2 separate regions of the Homo sapiens genome follow, and region 1 is linked to region 2. Evidence: fine-mapped expression QTL. Tissue or cell type: whole blood. Region 2 holds a variant in brackets; the other region holds the start of a gene. All regions are shown on one strand. Distances are between the middles of the regions.

Region 1 (8,101 bases), 120 kb before region 2:
GGGAGTGGGGACTCACCCAGGAGTTCATGTCTGCAATGAGCTATGATTGTGTTACTGCATTCCAGCCTGCGCAACAGAGTGATACCCCGTATCTTTAAAAAAAAAGTTTTTAAAATAATTATTCACTCATGACCAGTATTGTTTGATTTACCCCCCATCCACTCTTCCCAAATGATTCTGAAGCTAAATGTCAAACATCATATCTCATAAATATCTTTTTATTACACTTGATTTGCTTGACTTAAGATCTAAATGAGCTCCACACATTGTATTAGTTTGAAGTGACACTTCGGTCTCTCTCTCTCTCTTTTTTTTGAGATGGAATCTCGCTGTGTCCCCCAGGCTGGAGTGCAGTGGCGCAATCTTGGCTCACTGCAACCTCTGCCTCCCGAGTTCAAGCGATTCTCCTGCTTCAGCCTCCCAAGTAGCTGGGATTACAGGTGTTCACCACAACACCCAGCTAATTTTTGTATTTTTAGTAGAGACAGGGTTTCACCATGTTGGCCAGGCTGGTCTCGATCTCCTGACCTCGTGATCCACCCGTCTTGGCCTCCCAAAGTGCTGGGATTACAGGGGTGAGCCACTGTGCCCACCTCTTTCTTTTTTTGCACGGAGTCTTGCTCTGTCACCCAAGCTGGTGTGCAGTGGCGAGATATCAGCCCACTGTAACCTCCACCTCCCAGGTTCAAGTGATTCTCCTGCTTCAACGTCCTGAGTAGCTGGGATTACAGGTGCCCGTCACCACGCCTGGCTAATTTTTTTTTTTTTTTTTGTATTTTTGGTAAAGATGGAGTTTCACCATGTTGGCCAGGCTGGTCTCAAACTCCTGACCTCAGGTGATCCGCCCACTTCGGCCTCCCATGGTGCTGGGATTTCAGGTGTGAGCCACCGCGCCCAACCTCTAGGGCCACAGCTATTTTCAAGAACCATGATTTTAAGAAGGCAGAGTAGAAGCCAGAAGACCAGTGAGGGTATTGTTATATATTAATTACAGTATTAATTGCTAGCACTTATTATACACTGGAAACTGTCCTTATGTGCATTAATTTATTTAATCCCCATAGCAATGTTTTAAGAGGAGGTGCTACTATCATCCTTGTACAGAGGAGGAAAATGAAGTGTGGAGGGGAAGGTCATCCCAGCCAGGAAGTATCAGAGCCAGGATTTGAATCCCTCAGCCTGGCCCTGCAGTCCAGGCAATTTGCATTTATGCTTTGCTGCCCCTTGAATGGGGCAGAGGGTGTGATAACAGAAAAGTGGCCTGGTTAAGATAGGTTAAATCTGGCTGGGCACGGTGGCTCGGCCCTGTAATCCCAGCACTTTGGGAGGCTGAGGCAGGTGGATTACTTGGGGTCAGGAGTTCCAGACCAGCCTGGCCAACATGGTGAAACCCCATCTTTACTAAAACTACAAAAATTAGCTGGGTGTGGTGGTGTGCACCTGTAATCCCAGCTACTTGGGAGGCTGGGGCAGAAGAATCTCTGGAACCCAGGAGGCGGAGGTTGCAGTGAGCTGAGATTGCACCACCGCACTCTAGCCTGGGCAACAGAGCAAGACTCCATCTCAAAAAAAAAAAAAAAAAAAAAGAGAGAGAGTTTAACTCAGCAGGGCCTGGAAGTGGGTGGAGGTGGCAAGGGTAGGAAGGAGTCAAGGATAGTGACAAAATAATGATGGGCAGTTCCCATTGAGAGCCTGTGCTATGTCAGGCTATTGAACTATTTTCAACCTCATTTTGTAGATAAGAAAACTGGAACCCAGAAGAAGATAAGTTTTCAGCCCAAGGTCCTACACCTGAGAAGGGTGAAGCCAAGTCTAACTCTTAGAACATCTCACAGCTGAGCCTATAAACCCTGCCTAGGGTGTGTCTTCAAAGGACACATAAATGGTCTAGAAATTCTGCAAAAACAACGGGAAAGGGTGCCAGGGGCGAGAAGTTCTTATTTGGGGGACCCTCTCAGTAAGGAGTGCCTGAGGGTCTTCCTTTCCCTGGCTCCTCCCTCCCCTGAGTTCCCCAAATCCCTACACCTCCCTGTGTCTCAGACCTGCTTTCCCTACCTCTCTCGCCTACCAGCCAGACTGAGTCACCTCTGGGTCCTCAGCTTTGTCTAGCTTGAGTCAGGCATGCATGAGACCTCATGCCTGGAATTTTTTTTTTTTTTGAGACGGAGTCTCGCTCTGTCGTCCAGGCTGGAGTGCAGTGGCACGATCCCGGCTCACTGCAAGCTCCGCCTCCCGGGTTCACGCCATTCTTCTGCCTCAGCCTCGAGAGTAGCTGGGACTACAGGCATCCGCCACCATGCCCGGCTAATTTTTTGTATTTTTTTTGAGTAGAGACGGGGTTTCACCGTGTTAGCCAGGATGGTCTCAATCTCCTGACCTCGTGATCCACCCGCCTTGGCCTCCCAAAGTGCTGGGATTACAGGCGTGAGCCACCGCACCTGGCCTTTTTTTTTTAGACACTCTCGCTCTGTTGCCCAGACAGGGTTTTGCTATGTTGCAGAGGTGCAATCTTGGATCACTGCAAACTCTGCAACCTCTGCCTCTTGGGTTCAAATGATTCTCATGCCTCAGCTTCCCAAGTAGCTGGGTCTACAGGCGTGCCCCACCACGCCCAGATAATTTTTTTGTATTTTATTTTATTTTTTTCAGTAGAGATGGGGTTTTACCATGTTGGCCAGGCTGTCTCAAACTCTTGACCTCAAGTGATCTGCCCACCTAGGCCTCCCAAAGTGCTCAAAGTGCCTGTGCATGAGCTCAGCCATATGCTTTTTTTTTTTTTTTTTTTTTTTTTTTGAGATGGAGTCTCCATCACCCAGGCTGGAATGCAGTGGCACGATCTCAGCTCACTGCAACCTCCACCTCCCGAGTTCAGGCAATTCTCCTGCCTCAGCCTCCTGAGTAGCTGGGATAACAGGTGTGCACCACCACACCCAGCTAATTTTTATATTTTTAGTAGAGATGGTGTTTCACCATGTTGGTCAGGCTGGTCTTGAACTCCTGACCTCGTGATCCGCCCGCCTCAGCCTCCCAAAGTGCTGGGATTACAGGCATGAGCCACCGCGCCCAGCCGGCCACATAAAATTTTAATGAAGCAATTTGATAGGCTTAAGGAAAAGCAGGCCTTCTCTGTGTAAAGGCATTCACACAGGGGCTGCTCTGAAAATAGCTCCAGGGACCATTCCCTGGAAACTCCAGAATTAAGATAAATGTTGTTGCAGGAAACCCCTCCTCAGAAGCTGTGGGACAGGATAACTCAGTGGTTCATACCTGTAATCCCAGCATTTTGGGAGGCCCAGGTGGGAGGACCATTTGAGGCCAGGAGCTGGAGACCAGCCTAGGCAACATAGCAAGACCCCTGTTTCTACAAAAAAAATTCTAACAATTAAAAAAAAAAAAAAAAGCTCTGCCCCTAGGCTGGAAATCAAGGCTGCTCTGATGTCACAAAGTGACATAGATCCTCCAGATGAGAGTGGGATGTCCTATTCTCACTACTGCTACGATTACAAAGAGCAGACTTTCTGACAGCTCATGACTTGAGACTACAGTTTTTCAGCCCCAGGTCCTTGGTGTAAATGAACACAAGCTCTTTTCAGAGGTTCACACCCCAACAGAAGATGAATAATCCCCAATCTGATTATTCAAGAGATAATGCAAAATTATCTTTTTTTTTTTTTTTAAGATTTCTTCCTGGAAAGAGAGAAACATTCCTGATAAAATGCTTATGCAATTTCTGGATGAACTTTAATGGGATCAAGTGTTGTTCTGGTAACCAGGCACCCACTCAAAAGTCCCTCAAGATATTAATGACCTGGAACCGAACGAATATCTTTTTTTTTTGAGACAGAGTCTCCCTCTGTCGCCCAGGCTGGAGTGCAGTGGCGTCATCTCTACTCACTGCAACCTCTGCCTCCCGGAACCGAACATCTTTTTCTAACCATGACTATCCTACCACCTGCTAGAAAACGGCCCCACGGGACGCGGTGGCTCACGTCTGTAATCCCAGCACTTTGGGAGGACAAGGTGGGAGGAACGCTTGAGCTCAGGAGTTCGAGATCAGCCTGGGCAACATAGTGAGAACTCCGTCTCTGCAAAAAACAAATTTTATATACATGTATGTGTGTGTGTGTGTGTATATATATATATGTATATAAATATATATATAGATATAAATATATATATATAAAATGTCGGGTGTGGTGGCAACGTGCCATAGTCCCAGCTACTCGGGAGGCTGAGGTTGGAGGATCGCTTGAACCCGGGAGTTTAAGGCTGTAGTAAGCTGAGATCGAGTCACTGCACTCAAGCCTGCGTGACAGAGCGAGACTCTGTCTCAAAATAAAACAAAAGAAAAAGGAAAAAAAACGGCCCCGAGGCTATGAGTGTACTGGGGCCTCTCCCTGGGTTTCTACTTCTCTCCCTATCTCTGTTCCTACATGAGTATGTCTGTGTGTCTCTGAGCGTCTGTCCCTCGCACTTTGAGTGTCTCCCTGTTCTCTGTTTTTTCTGGGTCTCAAAGCGTCCAGGCATTGCACTCTGGCTTTCCTCGGTCTCGCCCTCGCCCCAGTCCCGCTCGGCGGTCCCCCGCCCTCTGCCCCAGGCGTCCGTGGCCCCTTTAAGGCGTGCTCCGCCCCCGCCCCGCCCTTCCCGGGGTCAGTGCCGTAGCGCCCGGCTCCTGCAGGCGCTCGGCCTCCGCTCATTCCTGACCCCGCAGTGGGCGCGATGGCGGAGGCTGTACTGAGGGTCGCCCGGCGGCAGCTGAGCCAGCGCGGCGGGTCTGGAGCCCCCATCCTCCTGCGGCAGGTGCGGGTGGCTGGACCTAGGAGGGGACTGCTGGGCACTAGGCGGCAGCAAGGACGGAACTCCGGGGTCTCTTAATAGGGAGAGATCCGGGGGGACCCACGCCTGCATCTTGCGGAAAGCGGGGTGGAGGTTTAGGGCTGGACTCTTGGGTCCTTTAAAGGTGAGTGGTCTGGGGGCCTCTGGGCTTGGGGCCAGACCCCTGGGTCCTCTATGAAAGAACGTGCTGGGGACCCTGATTTTGGGATGTTAGGAAGTTGGAACTCTTTTGTTCTGATAGGGGAAGGTAGTGGGGCTCCGGACTCCCGACTCCCGGGGAAAGAGTGGGCTGGGGTTTCTGCTTCTGGATCTTAGGAAGAGGATAGGGTCAGTCTGGACTACTTGGCCTCCAGTGGGTGGAAGTCCGGTTCTGCGCCCTCACCTGGGTCCCCCGTTCCCAGATGTTCGAGCCTGTGAGCTGCACCTTCACGTACCTGCTGGGTGACAGAGAGTCCCGGGAGGCCGTTCTGATCGACCCAGTCCTGGAAACAGCGCCTCGGGATGCCCAGCTGATCAAGGAGCTGGGGCTGCGGCTGCTCTATGCTGGTCAGTCCGGGGACCAAACTCATGGATCCCAGCGGGGCTGGGCTGCAGCGTCAGTGGAATGGGAAGCTGGGGCCCAGAACTCCTGAGTCTGAGGGAGAAGGATCTGGGCTGGGACTCCCAGGTCCTTTCTGTACCCTCCGGACCTGTCCCTCCTCTCTCTCCCAGTGAATACCCACTGCCACGCGGACCACATTACAGGCTCGGGGCTGCTCCGTTCCCTCCTCCCTGGCTGCCAGTCTGTCATCTCCCGCCTTAGTGGGGCCCAGGCTGACTTACACATTGAGGATGGAGACTCCATCCGCTTCGGGCGCTTCGTGAGTTGGGTGCTGGGTCCCCAAGAGGGTGGTGGCCTGGACTTCTTAAACTTAAGGGAAGAGGGGACTGGGGGCCTGGGATCCTGAGTCCTTGGGGAGGAGGGACCTCAGGACCTGGGTTTCTGACCCCTGAGCTCATATTTCTGGGAGGGGGGCACCATAAACCCAGGTGGGGCACTGGGGCAAGAGGCTCTGGGCAGGTGGGGCACTGGCGGAACTCCTAAGTCAACAGCATTTAAGGAGTTTCCTTCCTAAAGCTTAGGGGCAGCCCTTTGGCCTGGCATGCATCTCCATAAAAGTTGATTAGGGGCTGGAATTCTGAGGGCAGGGCTGAGAAGGAAAGAGACCCAGTCCTGTCTTGCGGAAACCTCCGTTTGAGGAAGGAGCATCTGGGTGCTTAGAACCCGGAGCCCAGGACTAGGAAAAGGACGGTGAGGACCCTGGAGTGCAACATTTAAGGAGGCACTCGCTCTCAGGGTCCTGTAAGTGCAGGGTCCGCACCTGTGAGTGAGCGCCTCCTTAAATCTTGCACCAACAGCCTCACCCTAGTCCTAGCCCTGCCGTTGCCTCACACTGGGAAGTCTAAAGGTTCCTGCCTTCCTCACTTTATTTGCCACAGGCACCAGCGGGTTTCCGGCCAGAATTGCAACCAGGCCGAAGGAGGGAGGGCCAGGGGAGTTGCCCTCAGAGAGAGGGAAACAGCTGGCAGGGCATTCTTCTGATCAATTGCTAAAGATGTATAATAAAGTTTGGCTGACTTTGGGGACAGAATGTCAGGTGACAGAAGACAGCCTCCAGGTTAGAGAGTTTTGCCAAATAGGGACAGTTCATTTGAGTCAGAGTGTTTAGAGGAAATGAGGGCTGTGTGTGGGAAGAGAGTTCAGCTACAATGGTTACAGAAGCTTTATTTCAAGCCTTTCTCTGGAAGCAGGCAAAAATGCATTGTACATGTATGTACATTGTACATAATAGGTGCTAACAAACATGTCTTGAAATGAACGAAGGGTTTAGCTATGGTAGATTTAGCTTCAGTGTTTTTTTTTTTTCTTTCTTTCTTTCTTTCTTTTTTTTTTTTATTTGAGACTGGGTCTCTGTCACCTAGGCTGGAGTGCAGTCAGCCTTGACCTCCCAGGCTCAGGTGATCCTCCCACCTTAGCCTCCCTGGTAGCTGGGACCACAGGCATGCACCAGCACGCCTGGCTGATTTGTGTATGTTCTTGTAGAGACAGGGTTTTGTTATGTTGCCCAGGCTGGTCTTGAACTACTGGGCACAAGTGATCCTCCTACCTTGGCCTCCTAAAGTGCTAGGATTACAGGGCTTCTGAAAGTGCTGGGATTACAGGCATGAGCCACTGCACCCACCCTTTTTTGTTGTTGTTGTTTGTTTGTTTGTTTTTGAGAAAAGGTCTTGCTCTGTCACCCAGGCTGGAGTGCAATGGTGGGATCATAGCTTACTGCAGCCTTGACCTTCTGGGCTCAGGTGATCCTCATGCCTCAGCCTCCTAAGTAGCTGGGACTACAAGCACCTGCCACCATACCTGGCTAATTTTTTAATTTTTTGTTGAGCTGTAATCTCACTATGTTGCCCAGGCTTAATAGCTTTATTGATATAACCCACATACCATATAATTTATCTATTTCGAGTGCACAATTCAATGACTTTTAGTATATTCAGAGTTGTACATCCATTACTACCATTAATTGGAAAATGTTTCCATTACTCCAAAAAGACCCCACACCCCTTAGCCATCACCCCTATCCTTCCCTTTTCCCCCCTCAGCCTTAGGCAACTTTTTTTTTTTTTTTTTTTTAATTTGAGACAGGGTCTCACTTTGTTGCCCAAGCTAGAGTGCAGTGGTGCGATCTTGGTTTACTGCAACCTCCACCTCCCGGGTTCAAGTGATTCTCTTGTTTCAGCCTCCCAAATAGCAGGGATTACAGGCGTGCGCCACCAAGCCCAGCAAATTTTTTTGTTTTATTTATTTATTTATTTATTTGAGATGGAGTTTTGCTCTTGTTGCGCAGGCTGGAGTGCAATGGCGCTATCTCAGCTTAGCGCAACCTCAGCCTCCCGAGTAGCTGGGATTACAGGCATGCGCCACCATGCCTAGCTAATTTTGTATTTTTAGTAGAGACGGGGTTTCTCCGTATTGGTCAGGCTGGTCTCCAACTCCCTATCTCAGGTGATCCGCGCGCCCTGGCCTCCCAAAGTGTTGGGATTACAGGCATGAGCCACTGCGCCCAGGCACATTTTTATTTATTTTTTTGAGACAGTCTTGCTCTGTCACCCAGGCTGGAGTGCAATGGCAAGCTCTCAGTTCACTGCAGCCTCTGCCTCCTGAGCGCAAGCGATTCTGCTGTCTCAGCCTCCCAAATAGCTGGGATTCCAGGCATGTGCCACCATG
Region 2 (8,101 bases):
ATGTTTGGCCTGTTAACATTGTTAGGTCTAAAGCTGCCTCCCTACTACTTTAAGTTTGGTCTAATGGTTTCTCCATACATAGTGAACTGTAACCTAACTTGATGTGTAAACAGTCTGTAACCTGCTATAGTAAAAATAGCTGAGTCTCAGCCAATCACAGGTACCCAACTAACTGTTCAAACCTGGTTCAAATAAGGCAAGCACCCAACTGTTAGCAGTCCAGCTATTTCAGTGCCTTCCTTAGTTTCTTCTACATCACTTTCTTCTGCGGTAGATGTTATCCAACCATTTATGGACGGAACACCCTGAAGTTTCTCTGAACCTACTCTGGGTCTGGGGGCTACCTGATTAATGCATCATTCATTACTCAATTAAACTGTGTTAAATTTAACGTGTCTGAAGTTTTTCCTTTAGTCAGCCAATTAATCTAATTATTGATTTGACTGCATGTAAATCTACGCTTCAACTTGTGAGTTGGAAGTAGAATGAGGTCACAGTTTCAGGTAGCACCAGGCCTCCACGGGTTCATGAGAATTTCCAGGTGTCCAGGGGTGGGATCAGGCCACAGTATCAGATGGCAGCATCGGTGCTTGAGAAGTTTCCCATGTGACCTTAGGGATCCCAGGATGATGCCCCATAGTCCAGGGATCTTGGGGATGGGAAGAGTCTGGTCTGACTCACTGTGAGGCCTCGCTGAAGCTGTCTTTCTCTGATAGTGCAGCCCTCCCTGAATCCAGGGCTGGAGTGACCTCGATCTGCACAGATCTCTCCAAAAAGAACAAAGACCAAGGTCTCTGGTGCAGGCCCTTCTGGGAGAGGGCACTTCTCACGGTGGGCGTCACGGGTGGTTGTGGCCCTGGTTCTAGAGGGTGGTGTGGCTCCAGAACGCACGCACAGCACTAAAACATCCCTGTCCACCCCCAACTCGCCATTTATTTATTTATTTATTTTTAAGAGGAGGAGGCGTGCAAGGGCGGTGACCGGCCGGACCCTCTTCTCCTCCCCGCCTACCGGCCCACGGCTCAGATGGCCACAGGCGAGGCCGCCGCCACCGCTACCTCCTGGCCCACAGCCACCCCTCGAATAGGGGCCACCGGGCCACCCTCCGACGTGCCTTGTTCGCTCCCCGAACCCCGATCTAGCCCCTGGTCGAGCCCGGGCAGAACGAGGAGAAGACCTGGCTCCCAAACAGGACGCTGCGGGGGCGGCCCTCACCGCCTCTCCACCCCCGGAAGCGCATGTTCCTTGCAGCCCTCGGAAAGCCCAGAGGGCGGGGCGGGCGCCTCCTGAGGGCATTGCGGGCTCGGGCAGGCTCACGGGAGAGACGTCACTGGTTCCCATACCAGAGGCCGGGGTGGGGGTATGGGGACGCGGGAGACCCCCGGGATTGAGGAAGGAAGGATTGATGGCTCTGCACACACGCTGCGAAGCGGACACACGCCTGTGTGGAGGGCTAACTTTCAACAGATCCCATCCAGGGAGCCACTCTGCTGCAGAGAAAACTCGGACCCAGAAGCAGCTCCTCTAGGGATGGTTTAGCGCCAGGTTCCCCACGAATGGGCCTTGCGTGAAGGGCGAGGGGCCGGCCACCCTTCCCACTGCCGGTTTCCCAAGACAATGAGCTCTCCGCATGGGGCCTCAACCCTGCTGCACTGCGTCCTGTTGGCGACGACCGGCTATCCCAGGCCAGCCGAGGCTTCATGGCGCTGCCCTATAGTTCTGCCTGGGCATATTCTGACTTGGAGGCCTTTAGTCAGCATCCCACGGATGGCAGCTTAGCCCAGTGGTCCCTCATCCAAGCACAGGCACCAAACGTCTGAACCTGGGGACCTGTGGTACTGGGCAAGAGCACCATGGCAACCACGCATGCTCACTAGCGTGAAATCAACCTGTCTCACATGGTCTAATCCCAGCTCCGGCTTTCTTTTCTTTCCTTTTCTTCTTTCTTCCTTTTTTTTTTTTTTGACGAAGTTTCGCTCTTGTTGCCCAGGCTGGAGTGCAGTGACACCGTCTCAGCTCACTGCAACCTCTGCCTCCCTGGTTCAAGTGATTCTCCTGCCTCAGCCTCCCGAGTAGCTGGGATTACAGGCATGCGCCACCACGCCCGGCTAATTTTTGTATTTTCAGTAGAGATGGGGGTTTCACCATGTTGGCCAGGCTGGCCTCGAACTTCCAACCTCAGGTGATTCGCCCGCCTTGGCCTACCAAAGTGCTGGGATTATAGGCGTGAGCCACAGCCCCAGCCCCAGCTCAGGTTTTCTGAGTGGGTGAACATCCCAACCTTGGTGAATTCTGTCTTCCAATGATAGGAAGAGCCCACATCCAAGGATCAAAAGGATTAAAAAGCCACAGGACATGGTGGCTCAGGCCTGCGGTCCCATTTATTTTGGAGGCTGAGGCGAGAGTATCACTTAAGCGCCGATCACATAGCTCACATAGCGCAGTGAGCAATGGTGGCACCACTGCACTCCAGCCTGTGCCACAGAATGAGACCCTGTCAAAAAAAAAAAAAAAAACAAAAAACAAAGACAAAAAACAAAAAGAAGCCTCATTCCTATGAATGCTTTCCTGCTGCAAATCAGTTATCCCTGTGACGACTTTTCTGACACCCCTTGTTTAAAACTCAAAAGGTCAGAAGGATCCTGAGGCCCTGCTTTCACCGTCTGAACTCCTGTTGCAAATCCAAGACCCAGGAGCTTTTGCCCTCCTGCCCAACGGGAGGCTTCTGTCTTCCTGCGCTCCCTTCGGACATCTGCGTTCAGACGTGTGTCCCAGTCTCCCCATCTAGCGCTGCCCCTGGTGAGCTTGGCTAAGGCTTGGCGCCAGAAGCCAGAGTCTCTCTCGAAACTCGCGCCCGACTCCCCCACCAGGTTAGTGAAAAAACAATTAATAATGGAATTTCACCCACAGCCCGCAAGGCCCATGTACCTGCCTCGCCCCCATGCGGGAACTGAAGATGGAGGCGGGACCGCCCACCGATCCCCCTCTCCTGTCTCTTCACCGCCTTTCAATCAGGCTCAGAGGGTTCTTCTCTCCCGCAGGTTCCGCCAAGCCTGTCCCTTGGCTGTGGTGTCGCTGGATGCTATGTAGGGACGGTGGGAATAGCGTCTATCCATTCGCGCGCGTCACTAATTACATGGGGCATTGGCTCTTTTAAGAGGGTCACGGTTGCTCCTGCCCTTGATCCGGGCTTCATTGAATTCCTTCACTTTGACATTCAGTGCCCTGCACAGAAATCACAAGTCGTCAATACCCACAGCAGCCTAAGCTGTGTTTTGTTTTAATTCAACAGTCCCAAGGTGCCTCCCAAAGTGCTAGGATTACAGGCGTGAGCCAGGCATCTGGCTTTTTTTTTTTTTTTTTTTTGTAGAGACAGGGTCTCCTTATGTTGTCCGGGCTGGTCTCAAACTCCTGGCCTCAAGTGATCCTCCTGCCTCTTATATGCTGGCTTTCTTATTACATGAAATATCTTTTCCCATCCTTTTATAGTCAACAATTGTGTATCCTTCCATTTTATTTTATCGTATTTTTTTGAGATGGAGTCTTGCTGGGTCCCCCAGGCTGGATTGCACTGGCACGATCTCAGCTCACTGCAACCTCCGCCTCCTGGGTTCAAGCAGTTCTCCTGCCTCAGTCTCCCGAATAGCTGGGATTACAGCACATGCCACCACGCCCAGCTAATTTTTCTAGAGACGGGGTTTCACCATGTTGGTCAGGCTGGTCTCAAACTCCTGACTTCCAGTGATCCACCTGCCTTGGCCTCCCAAAATGCTGGGATTACAGGCGTGAGTCACCGCACCCAACCTCCTTCCATTTTAGATGTGTTTTTAAATAAATAATTTATTATTGGATCTTGTCTTTGTCTTTGCCTCTTTTTTTTTTTTTTTTTTTTTTTTTTGAGACAGAGTTTTGTTCTTGTCATGGTCTTGGCTCACTGCAACTTCTGCCTCCCAGGTTCAAGCCTGCCTCAGGCTCCCAAGTACCTGGGATTACAGAGATGTGCCACCTCGCCAGGCTAATTTTTGTATTTTTAGTAGAGATGGGGTTTCATTATATTCACTATGTTGGCCAGGCTGGTAGACAACTCCTGACCTCAGGTGATCCACCCACCTCGGCCCCCCAAAGTGCTGGGATTACAGGTGTGAGCCACCACACCAGGCCAGATCTTGCCTTCCTAATCCACTCTGATAATCTTTGTTTGGGAAATAGGCTAGAAATTCCAGCACGCATAATTCATTTATCAAAGTCTAAAGTCAATTTAAACCTTTGCCTTTTTCCTGAATAATAAAATGACCTTAGATTTACTTAGCTTCACCAATTTGCCTACTCACCCTGAATTACATACTAACTAACCTTGCAGGGAATTTTTAGTGTATCTTTGTATAATCCCACTAGATATCATTAGCACTATTTATACCAAGTACATTTACATTTTAACGTGTATTTGCCACTTTCTTTTCTCTTCATTACTTTTTGCGTCCCATACCTTCTATCTGTGATCAGTTCTCTCCTTTCTGAAATATATGTCTCAGTGGGAATCAGCTGTTGATGAAGTGTCTCTATTTTTATTTTGCTGAAAATACCTTTGTTTCAGGCTTATTTATTTCTTATATATTTTAAAATTTTAAATTATGACATAAAAAACAGAGTAAAGTGCACACAACTTAAGTATATATATATTTATATATTCACCTAACATATATATAATTTATTATTATGTATATTTTTCATTCTTTCTTTCTGTGTATACACAGGCAAATAATTAGGATACACGCACACACATACATACACATGTATCTAGATTGATAGAAAAAAATTAAAAAATCAATCAAGCAAATGTGGCAAAATGTTAACAATTGGTGAATCTTGGTGAAATATATAAGGGGTTCATTGTACAATTCTTCCACCTTTTCTATGGGCTTGAAAACTTTCAAAATAAAAGGTTGGAAGATAACAAACAAATTGTAGTA[T/G]ATTATATATTAAAATGCTATCCCTTTCCAAAGAGGGGTGAAATGCTAATACATAAACATATGTAATATAATATAGATATCACATTTCAGTGGCTTATTGAGCATTCAAAATCTAGAAGAAGCTGAAGCATCTCCTGAAGGCTTCCAGTCCTTCTTGGGTATAATCCTAGAATTATTGCCCATTCCTCTGAAGTAATTCCCAGAATACAGTCCTTCCTAAACCCAAGAAATTGCCTTTTTCAGAGTTTACTTCTCACGTGCACTGCTGAAGATGAGTATCCCTAATCCTTCATAAAGAATCAGCCAGAGTTGTCGTGATAAAGCCAGCACACACAAAAAGGCTTCTTACACATACCTGTCTTAAATCATGTGTAGAGCTTTTTTTTTTTCCAAAAAAAAAAAAAAAAACCCACACACTTTTGACCATCTTTTTTTTTTTGAGCCAGAGTCTCACTCTGTTGCCCAGGCTGGAGTGCAGTGGCGTGATCTTGGCTCACTGCACGCTCCACCTCCTGGCTTCATGCCATTCTCCTGCCTCAGCCTCCCGAGTAGCTGGGACTACAGGTGCCCGCCACCATGCCCGGCTAATTTTTTGCATTTTTAGTAGAGACAGGGTTTCATTGTGTTAGCCAGGATGGTTTTGACCATCTTAAATCAAGAAAATTGGATATTTCCATTCTGGTCTTTGTGGGCCAGATTTTTATATTGGTTTTCAGTAAATGTCTATCTATAATATTTCATAGAGTCCAGTAGCTTAATACTGACATTGACTTGATACAGCATGAAGTTTCTTTTTCTTTTTCCTTTTTTTTTTTAAAATCAATTAGAACATTTAGTTTATTCTGAATTAGGGTTAAAGGCTAATAATATTGGTATTTCCTTTTTTAAATTATTATTATACTTTAAGTTCTAGGGTACATGTGCACAACGTGCAGGTTTGATACATAGGTATACATGTGCCATGCTGGTTTGCTGCACCCATGAGCTTGTCATTTACATTAGGTATTTCTCCTAATGCTATCCCTCCCCCAGCCCCCAACTCCAAGACAGGCCCCGGTGTCCAAGTGTTCTCATTGTTCAATTCCCACCTATGAGTGAGAACATGTGGTGTTTGGTTTTCTGTCCTTGTGATAATTCACTGATACAGCATGAAGTTTCTAGTGCCGCACACAGTATTTAGAAAACCTTTAAGCCTGAATGACTCAGGTGGGATATATGTAAACATAATGTTTATCTTATCTCACAAATGCATGTGAAATGTATAATTACATCTTAGGAATCCAATACGGTCCACAGAGAGTGAGTGGAGGCACCAGATCAATGTTGATTCTTTACACTGGTGAGATCCTACCTGAGGGATATTAAAGACATTCTGCTTTCTGAGAACTCTTTATCGCCAGATGGCAGTTGGGATATGGGAGGAACTAACGCATGCTGTTTTGCATCTGTCCAGATCATTATTTCTATCTTTTGTTTTTTCTTTCTGGTTCAGCATACTTTTTTAAGGGGTTAAGAATTGAAGATTTTCTCAAAAGCTTTCATGAATTTAGAGCATTCCACCCAATATAATAAAAACTGTTAAGAATGTCAGATTTAGGCTGGACGCGGTGGCTCATACCTGTAATCCCAGCACTTTGGGAGGCCAAGGCAGGCGGATCACGAGGTCAGGAGATCGAGACCATCCTGGCTAACACGGTGAAACCCCGTCTCTACTAAAAAATACAAAAAAATTAGCCGGCTGTGGTGGCGGGCGCCTGTAGTCCCAGCTACTCAGGAGGCTGAGGCAGGAGAATGGCGTGAACCCAGGAGGCGGAGCTTGCAGTGAACCGAGATTGTGCCACTGTAGTCCAGCCTGGGCGACAGAGTGAGACTCCATCTCAAAAAAAAAAAAAAGTCAGATTTAGTTCAAACATCTGTTTGTTCTATCTCCAGTCATTAAACCAGTGCTGCTGCATGACACTGTAATTCCCGACTTTTTACATCCAGCCATAAAGTTGACTTTCAGCACAAAAGATACTTATAAACAAATACAAAATTTTATTTTTCTCTTTTATTGATGTAAGGTTTGGCACTCTTTTGACTGGTGCCATTAGACATCTTGATTATTGTGACAACTCTAGACCTGCCTGCTTAATCTAATGTAATCATGTTCAACATCTACAGGTTAATAATCAATCACACAGAGAACTGAGGAACTGATGCTGTTCGTTTGCTTCTATGATACAGAGATGTCTAAAAACTTCAAATGAACATGTTTTGTAGTTTAGTGACTTCTGTATACATAAAGGGACATATTCATACTGGTTCAGTTGTAAATTATTATTCATATAGACCACTGTAGTAGCTTAAACACTATGGGACACCCGCTTATGTGTTGCCTCACACTGCGTGTGATTTTTTCTTTTGTTAAGCAGCACTTATGTAGACTGCATTTCCAAACGTGTTGAGCACTCAGAGTTTAGTCTACAGTAAGTTCTTTTAATGAATACCAGTTTTAATTCATAGACTGCCGTGGCCTTAAAAATATTCTGTACAATATACTGCACTGTGTTGCACAGACACTACTTGCTTTTCTCCATTCGTATTTTTATGAGTAGAATCTGGGCTTTTAAGTTTTCTCTTTTTTTTTTTTGAGACAGAGTTTTGCTGTTGTTGCCCAGGCTGGAGTGCAATGGCACAATCTCCAGCTTACCGCCTCCCGGGTTCAAGCTATTCTCCTGCCTCAGCCTCCTGAGTAGCTGGGATTACAGGCATTTGCTACCACACCCGGCTGATTTTGTATTTTTAGTAGAGACAGAGTTTCTCCATGTTGGTCAGGTTGGTCTCGAACTCCCAACCTCAGATCTGCCTGCCTTGGCCTCCCAAAATTCTGGGATTATAGGCGCAAGCCACCACTCCCGGCCCTCAGCCACGCACCTGGCCCAAAGTTCTCTTCTTATTCTTTGAAGCATGTTGCATATTTCCCTGATGGGATGGATGGTTCTGTAAATGAAAGGGTATTTAAACTTGCTGCTGTTGTTCAATACCATTAATGGTCAAAGTGAACCATTACAAAGAATGTGACAACTTGCTTGTGCCTAAAAGGAGGAATTGGAACTAGAGTGTGTGACTCTGTGAGGACTGTATAGGTT

The links. PIP is the estimated chance that this variant, and not a neighbour inherited with it, causes the effect.
Region 1: ETHE1 starts here. The variant in region 2 is fine-mapped to the expression of ETHE1 in whole blood (TOPMed, PIP above 0.99).

What each region holds. Positions count from the first base shown.
Region 1 is chr19:43,523,796-43,531,896 of GRCh38, reverse strand. ETHE1 (ETHE1 persulfide dioxygenase) reads left to right here and starts at 4,696. Exons shown (of 7, transcript NM_014297.5): 1 at 4,696-4,800; 2 at 5,238-5,382; 3 at 5,548-5,696. The coding sequence starts at 4,720. It also overlaps a transcript of ZNF575 not described here. RefSeq lists silencers at 571-742, 4,545-4,734, 6,085-6,244 and enhancers at 5,345-5,524, 5,040-5,544, 5,545-6,050.
Region 2 is chr19:43,401,347-43,409,447 of GRCh38, reverse strand. It overlaps a transcript of TEX101 not described here and the pseudogene LOC110467528. Among named protein-coding and RNA genes, the nearest start is that of TEX101, 9.5 kb to the left of the region's middle. The variant T/G (reference allele first, on the strand shown) is at 4,971.